Regions from separate parts of the Homo sapiens genome. Here region 2 is reported to be linked to region 1. The links are microRNA targets in miRTarBase. Many come from high-throughput screens and were not tested one by one. Region 1 holds a microRNA gene; the other region holds the end of a gene's coding sequence.

What was found. The annotated mature microRNA hsa-miR-218-5p reads UUGUGCUUGAUCUAACCAUGU and lies in region 1 at 1,813-1,833, shown strand. An mRNA with a match to its seed (bases 2 to 7 or 8) in the 3' UTR can be bound and repressed. Matches are read on the target gene's strand: a 7mer-m8 pairs with bases 2 to 8, a 7mer-A1 pairs with bases 2 to 7 and ends in A, and an 8mer does both.
Region 2: miRTarBase lists SOST as a target of hsa-miR-218-5p. Seed matches in the 3' UTR shown: 7mer-A1 at 727-733 and 7mer-m8 at 1,651-1,657.

What each region holds. Positions count from the first base shown.
Region 1 is chr4:20,526,487-20,530,554 of GRCh38, forward strand. MIR218-1 (microRNA 218-1) reads left to right here and starts at 1,789; the gene lies at 1,789-1,898. SLIT2 (slit guidance ligand 2) reads left to right here. Exons shown (of 37, transcript NM_004787.4): 16 at 2,463-2,613.
Region 2 is chr17:43,751,576-43,755,632 of GRCh38, reverse strand. SOST (sclerostin) reads left to right here. Exons shown (of 2, transcript NM_025237.3): 2 at 1-1,895. The coding sequence ends at 291. Among named protein-coding and RNA genes, the nearest start is that of SOST, 5.2 kb to the left of the region's middle. RefSeq lists a silencer at 1,110-1,312.

The DNA.
Region 1 (4,068 bases):
TAATATGATTTAAATCCTAAAATTATGGCAGTAATGTAATTGGTATCAAATTATTCAAACTATTTCATTTAAATATACTTAATTAATAATTGGTAAGTTTAATATTTCCAATTCACTAAATAAAGAACAAAAGTCAGGTTGTTTTCATATATTCTGATATAGTTTTTCCCTGTTACTGACAGCAGCCAAAATAGGATTTGGAAATTATCTTTTATATCAAATATCATGTCTTAAGTTTCAATTTATGATAATTTAATTTACATTCTTTAAACATGATAATTGTAGAAGCCAGGACTCAAAAGGATCATTTGGGCTTCCTCCCCTTTTTTCCAAAAATTTTAATTAAAATTTGAGTCCACCTAACAAGCCACCATAAAATAAGCATTATTACTGTTCCGTTGAATGCAGATTATTTGAATTGCAAGATATCCAGTGTACCTGTCACTTAGACTTTGTGCACTCTTATTTCATTTTGGAGTGAAGCATAAATCATAAGACACCAGATCCTCAGTAAATATCATGGCATTAACTGCCAAATGTAATGAAACGATTATATTTACCATCGCAAACTTCTTATGAGATTCTGATTCCATTTCCACTAAGACACATTATTTATAAGTTGAAAAGTTCATTAAAAAGTGTACATCACAACATAAGGATTAATCCAAATGTTGTAATGATTGTCCTTGAGGATCTCCATGATTAGTTTTTCATTCACTTTTACGTGTGTACCTCGCTACTACCATTTTATATGGCACTCTACATATTACAGTGATAAAAGAAAATCTGTCTTGCAGAGAGTTCATCTTTTTTTTTTTGGAGATGGAGTCTCGCTGTCTCCCAGGCTGGAGTGCAGTGGCATGATCTCGGCTCACTGCAAGTTCCGCCTCCCGAGTTCATGCCATTCTCCTGCCTCAGCCTCACCGAGTAGCTGGGACTACAGGCGCCCGCAACCATGCCCAGCTAATTTTTTGTATTTTTACTGGAGATGGGTTTTCACCCGTCAGGTGAAATGGTCTTGACTTCCTGACCTTGTGATCCGCCCGCCTTGGCCTCCCGAAGTGCTAGTATTACAGGCGTGAGCCACCACACCCGGCCTTGAGAGTTCATCTTTTAAAGGAATCAAGAACTTAATTTGCACTATGCATCTTTTATTACATTGGTTTTCTTGTGAGACCACCGTGCTTCAAAATATTATTTATAAAATTTTACAAAGCATGACAATTCCCATCACATCATGCTATTTTTTCAATAATTCCCATAATAAAGAAAGAAGGAAGAGAGCTTAGTTTTATAAATATGTATATTAATCTTAATTGGGATTACTCTTTCTTTCCTTCTTGGTGATCTTTACTTTTGCAGGAATTCACCATTTTGGCTGTAAGTAAAAGTGTCTGATCTGAAACATAATACCCTCCCTTTTCAATCCTGATGTACCTTCTTCTAGTCTTGGTCTTTGGCACCTTTTTTTCAAGAAGAAACCACAGATCTTTTGAGCTTCTCTGTTGTCCTTGTAGCTCACCTTCAACTTCTTCCTGGATGTTGTTCCCGAAAGCTGTTGTTTCCATTCTGCAGTTCTGAGGAATGGTGGAGGCACCTTTTCCATATAGCCCCTTCTTTGTGTTTCCAGGAAATCATCGGTAGTAATACTCTTACTGTGGTCATAAACATTCTGCGGGAAGAATGCATGTCATGTAAACAGTATTACGTTTCCAGAACGTCTGTAGCTTTTCTCCTCCTTCCCTCCATTTTCCTCTTGGTCTTACCTTTGGCCTAGTGGTTGGTGTAGTGATAATGTAGCGAGATTTTCTGTTGTGCTTGATCTAACCATGTGGTTGCGAGGTATGAGTAAAACATGGTTCCGTCAAGCACCATGGAACGTCACGCAGCTTTCTACAGCATGACAAGCTGCTGAGGCTTAAATCAGGATTTTCCTGTCTCTTTCTACAAAATCAAAATGAAAAAAGAGGGCTTTTTAGGCATCTCCGAGATTATGTGAGAGGGAGAGAATAGTAAAAAGTCCATAGAAAATTTAAAAGCCTGAGTATATCTATTTGCCTTGAAAGCCCTAATTTACAATGAGATATAGGATCATGTTTATTACTGGATATATTTTCAATTCTTGACTCCGAGAAAAAAAATAAACTTTTTAATAATTAATATCCATTGTGTGACTAGCTGTGAAGTAGGCTAGAATGACTCAGAATTGGATCAGCAGAAAGTACAGCTGTGAAAAGCTCAACTTTATTAATGTTTTCCTGTCATGTGAATCTGGTCACTCTTTTTTCCAGAAAATTCCAAGCCTTTCTTTTAACCTTTCTCCTGACATCCATTGACCAAAATACCCCAAGTTGTCTCCCTGCTACATAATCTATAGTTATCTTACTTTTTTCTTCCTACAAACTAATAAATTTTCTAACCTTTAGACTCAGTATCTTTTTTTTGGTTTGAATTCTCAATAGGTACAGAAGATTATCGATCAAAATTAAGTGGAGACTGCTTTGCGGATCTGGCTTGCCCTGAAAAGTGTCGCTGTGAAGGAACCACAGTAGATTGCTCTAATCAAAAGCTCAACAAAATCCCGGAGCACATTCCCCAGTACACTGCAGAGTTGTAAGTTCATCCCCCAACAAAATTCTGGTTGGGATGGAGGGAATGAAAGCATTAAAGCATAAGAATGTTTGTCTTGCCATTTTTATTATTAATAATTGCATTAATTTTAATTAATATGCATTACATTGGCATAACTCTATTTTGTACAAGAATATATTAGAGGCTACCTTCATTCATCTTTCTAGCCAACCATACGATTAAGTACAGAAACTAATTTATCTCTCAAAATTCAGTAAGCACTTCATACTAATAACAATGGTATTTATTTGATGCTTATTTATTGGGTATTATTTATTCCCAATTTGTTTTCTAAGTACTTAGTTTTTAACGTATTTAATTCTTATAGCAACTAAATAAAGTAGTTTGAGAGCCTCCATTTTCAATCTCTGTAAACTATCAATAGATTCAAGGAGTCTGTCTTACCTAATTTACTACTTCATTGACTTACGGGCAGAAGGATTCAGTGGTTATCAAGTATTAAAGTAGAAAGGATAGCTTTTTCTGAACAATGCAAGAAAAGCTGAAAAGGCAGAATATGATGGTATTTACACTTAACAGCCTTAACATAGGACCTTGCACATACTAAGTGCTAAGGTGTTTGTTGGAGCACTTACAGATTCTATGCCCATGCATGGTTTGCCTTTACTGACTTTATTTATAAGAAGAGGACCTTTAATGTTAGTGTTCTAACAATTCAGGGAAAAAACTAGCAAAACCTCATCATTCTCTAAACATCTTAGCCATGTTTATATATAGCACCATCTGGTATTTGTCATTTACTGCTTTGCAAAGTTCGTTGTCTGTTTGTTTGTATATAATCCTTCCATCTTTAACTAGATTATAGCTCCTTGATGACAGGGATTGTGTGTTATTGTTTATCTCTCACTGTGCCTATACTCATGCCTGTACTTAATTAATTTTTAGCAATTTGAATAACTAAAAATAAAGTAATGCCTTTCAAAGAGTTGACAGAAACCCACTATCTTGTAGTTATAGTGATTTTTTTTTTTTTACTCCTATTAGTTGATGAAGCTATTTCACAGCTCCAGGAATTTTAGAAATGCATGGAGTCCATGCAACCAAGGCCCTGAACTTTATTTTTTATAGACATATAGGGATTTATGCTTATTACCTATAATACTACAAACAAGTGATACCTTCCAGCACAATAGTACTTTTTTTTTTTTTGAGACAGAGTCTCACTATCTCACCCAGGCAGGAGTGCAGTGGCACAATCACAGCTCCCTGTAGCCTTGGCCTCCTGGGCGCAAGGGATCCTCCCACCTCAGTCCCCCACCCCCATCTCCCCAAGAAGCTGGGACCTCAGGCATGCACCACCACACCCAGCTAATTTTGTACTTTTTGTAGAGATGGGATTTTGCCCTGTTGTCCAGGCTGGTCTTGAACTCCTGAGCTCAAGCAATCCTCCTGCCTCTGCCTCTCAAAGTGCCAGGG
Region 2 (4,057 bases), not on the chromosome of region 1:
GCCATCGGCCGCGGCAAGTGGTGGCGACCTAGTGGGCCCGACTTCCGCTGCATCCCCGACCGCTACCGCGCGCAGCGCGTGCAGCTGCTGTGTCCCGGTGGTGAGGCGCCGCGCGCGCGCAAGGTGCGCCTGGTGGCCTCGTGCAAGTGCAAGCGCCTCACCCGCTTCCACAACCAGTCGGAGCTCAAGGACTTCGGGACCGAGGCCGCTCGGCCGCAGAAGGGCCGGAAGCCGCGGCCCCGCGCCCGGAGCGCCAAAGCCAACCAGGCCGAGCTGGAGAACGCCTACTAGAGCCCGCCCGCGCCCCTCCCCACCGGCGGGCGCCCCGGCCCTGAACCCGCGCCCCACATTTCTGTCCTCTGCGCGTGGTTTGATTGTTTATATTTCATTGTAAATGCCTGCAACCCAGGGCAGGGGGCTGAGACCTTCCAGGCCCTGAGGAATCCCGGGCGCCGGCAAGGCCCCCCTCAGCCCGCCAGCTGAGGGGTCCCACGGGGCAGGGGAGGGAATTGAGAGTCACAGACACTGAGCCACGCAGCCCCGCCTCTGGGGCCGCCTACCTTTGCTGGTCCCACTTCAGAGGAGGCAGAAATGGAAGCATTTTCACCGCCCTGGGGTTTTAAGGGAGCGGTGTGGGAGTGGGAAAGTCCAGGGACTGGTTAAGAAAGTTGGATAAGATTCCCCCTTGCACCTCGCTGCCCATCAGAAAGCCTGAGGCGTGCCCAGAGCACAAGACTGGGGGCAACTGTAGATGTGGTTTCTAGTCCTGGCTCTGCCACTAACTTGCTGTGTAACCTTGAACTACACAATTCTCCTTCGGGACCTCAATTTCCACTTTGTAAAATGAGGGTGGAGGTGGGAATAGGATCTCGAGGAGACTATTGGCATATGATTCCAAGGACTCCAGTGCCTTTTGAATGGGCAGAGGTGAGAGAGAGAGAGAGAAAGAGAGAGAATGAATGCAGTTGCATTGATTCAGTGCCAAGGTCACTTCCAGAATTCAGAGTTGTGATGCTCTCTTCTGACAGCCAAAGATGAAAAACAAACAGAAAAAAAAAAGTAAAGAGTCTATTTATGGCTGACATATTTACGGCTGACAAACTCCTGGAAGAAGCTATGCTGCTTCCCAGCCTGGCTTCCCCGGATGTTTGGCTACCTCCACCCCTCCATCTCAAAGAAATAACATCATCCATTGGGGTAGAAAAGGAGAGGGTCCGAGGGTGGTGGGAGGGATAGAAATCACATCCGCCCCAACTTCCCAAAGAGCAGCATCCCTCCCCCGACCCATAGCCATGTTTTAAAGTCACCTTCCGAAGAGAAGTGAAAGGTTCAAGGACACTGGCCTTGCAGGCCCGAGGGAGCAGCCATCACAAACTCACAGACCAGCACATCCCTTTTGAGACACCGCCTTCTGCCCACCACTCACGGACACATTTCTGCCTAGAAAACAGCTTCTTACTGCTCTTACATGTGATGGCATATCTTACACTAAAAGAATATTATTGGGGGAAAAACTACAAGTGCTGTACATATGCTGAGAAACTGCAGAGCATAATACTGCCACCCAAAAATCTTTTTGAAAATCATTTCCAGACAACCTCTTACTTTCTGTGTAGTTTTTAATTGTTAAAAAAAAAAAGTTTTAAACAGAAGCACATGACATATGAAAGCCTGCAGGACTGGTCGTTTTTTTGGCAATTCTTCCACGTGGGACTTGTCCACAAGAATGAAAGTAGTGGTTTTTAAAGAGTTAAGTTACATATTTATTTTCTCACTTAAGTTATTTATGCAAAAGTTTTTCTTGTAGAGAATGACAATGTTAATATTGCTTTATGAATTAACAGTCTGTTCTTCCAGAGTCCAGAGACATTGTTAATAAAGACAATGAATCATGACCGAAAGGATGTGGTCTCATTTTGTCAACCACACATGACGTCATTTCTGTCAAAGTTGACACCCTTCTCTTGGTCACTAGAGCTCCAACCTTGGACACACCTTTGACTGCTCTCTGGTGGCCCTTGTGGCAATTATGTCTTCCTTTGAAAAGTCATGTTTATCCCTTCCTTTCCAAACCCAGACCGCATTTCTTCACCCAGGGCATGGTAATAACCTCAGCCTTGTATCCTTTTAGCAGCCTCCCCTCCATGCTGGCTTCCAAAATGCTGTTCTCATTGTATCACTCCCCTGCTCAAAAGCCTTCCATAGCTCCCCCTTGCCCAGGATCAAGTGCAGTTTCCCTATCTGACATGGGAGGCCTTCTCTGCTTGACTCCCACCTCCCACTCCACCAAGCTTCCTACTGACTCCAAATGGTCATGCAGATCCCTGCTTCCTTAGTTTGCCATCCACACTTAGCACCCCCAATAACTAATCCTCTTTCTTTAGGATTCACATTACTTGTCATCTCTTCCCCTAACCTTCCAGAGATGTTCCAATCTCCCATGATCCCTCTCTCCTCTGAGGTTCCAGCCCCTTTTGTCTACACCACTACTTTGGTTCCTAATTCTGTTTTCCATTTGACAGTCATTCATGGAGGACCAGCCTGGCCAAGTCCTGCTTAGTACTGGCATAGACAACACAAAGCCAAGTACAATTCAGGACCAGCTCACAGGAAACTTCATCTTCTTCGAAGTGTGGATTTGATGCCTCCTGGGTAGAAATGTAGGATCTTCAAAAGTGGGCCAGCCTCCTGCACTTCTCTCAAAGTCTCGCCTCCCCAAGGTGTCTTAATAGTGCTGGATGCTAGCTGAGTTAGCATCTTCAGATGAAGAGTAACCCTAAAGTTACTCTTCAGTTGCCCTAAGGTGGGATGGTCAACTGGAAAGCTTTAAATTAAGTCCAGCCTACCTTGGGGGAACCCACCCCCACAAAGAAAGCTGAGGTCCCTCCTGATGACTTGTCAGTTTAACTACCAATAACCCACTTGAATTAATCATCATCATCAAGTCTTTGATAGGTGTGAGTGGGTATCAGTGGCCGGTCCCTTCCTGGGGCTCCAGCCCCCGAGGAGGCCTCAGTGAGCCCCTGCAGAAAATCCATGCATCATGAGTGTCTCAGGGCCCAGAATATGAGAGCAGGTAGGAAACAGAGACATCTTCCATCCCTGAGAGGCAGTGCGGTCCAGTGGGTGGGGACACGGGCTCTGGGTCAGGTTTGTGTTGTTTGTTTGTTTGTTTTGAGACAGAGTCTCGCTCTATTGCCCAGGCTGGAGTGCAGTGTCACGATCTCGGCTTACTGCAACTTCTGCCTTCCCGGATTCAAGTGATTCTCCTGCCTCAGCCTCCAGAGTAGCTGGGATTACAGGTGCGTGCCACCACGCCTGGCTAATTTTTGTATTTTTGATAGAGACGGGGTTTCACCATGTTGGCCAGGCTAGTCTCGAACTCTTGACCTCAAGTGATCTGCCTGCCTCGGCCTCCCAAAGTGCTGGGATTACAGGCGTGAGCCACCACACCCAGCCCCAGGTTGGTGTTTGAATCTGAGGAGACTGAAGCACCAAGGGGTTAAATGTTTTGCCCACAGCCATACTTGGGCTCAGTTCCTTGCCCTACCCCTCACTTGAGCTGCTTAGAACCTGGTGGGCACATGGGCAATAACCAGGTCACACTGTTTTGTACCAAGTGTTATGGGAATCCAAGATAGGAGTAATTTGCTCTGTGGAGGGGATGAGGGATAGTGGTTAGGGAAAGCTTCACAAAGTGGGTGCTGCTTAGAGATTTTCCAGGTGGAGAAGGGGGCTTCTAGGCAGAAGGCATAGCCCAAGCAAAGACTGCAAGTGCATGGCTGCTCATGGGTAGAAGAGAATCCACCATTCCTCAACATGTACCGAGTCCTTGCCATGTGCAAGGCAACATGGGGGTACCAGGAATTCCAAGCAATGTCCAAACCTAGGGTCTGCTTTCTGGGACCTGAAGATACAGGATGGATCAGCCCAGGCTGCAATCCCATTACCACGAGGGGGAAAAAAACCTGAAGGCTAAATTGTAGGTCGGGTTAGAGGTTATTTATGGAAAGTTATATTCTACCTACATGGGGTCTATAAGCCTGGCGCCAATCAG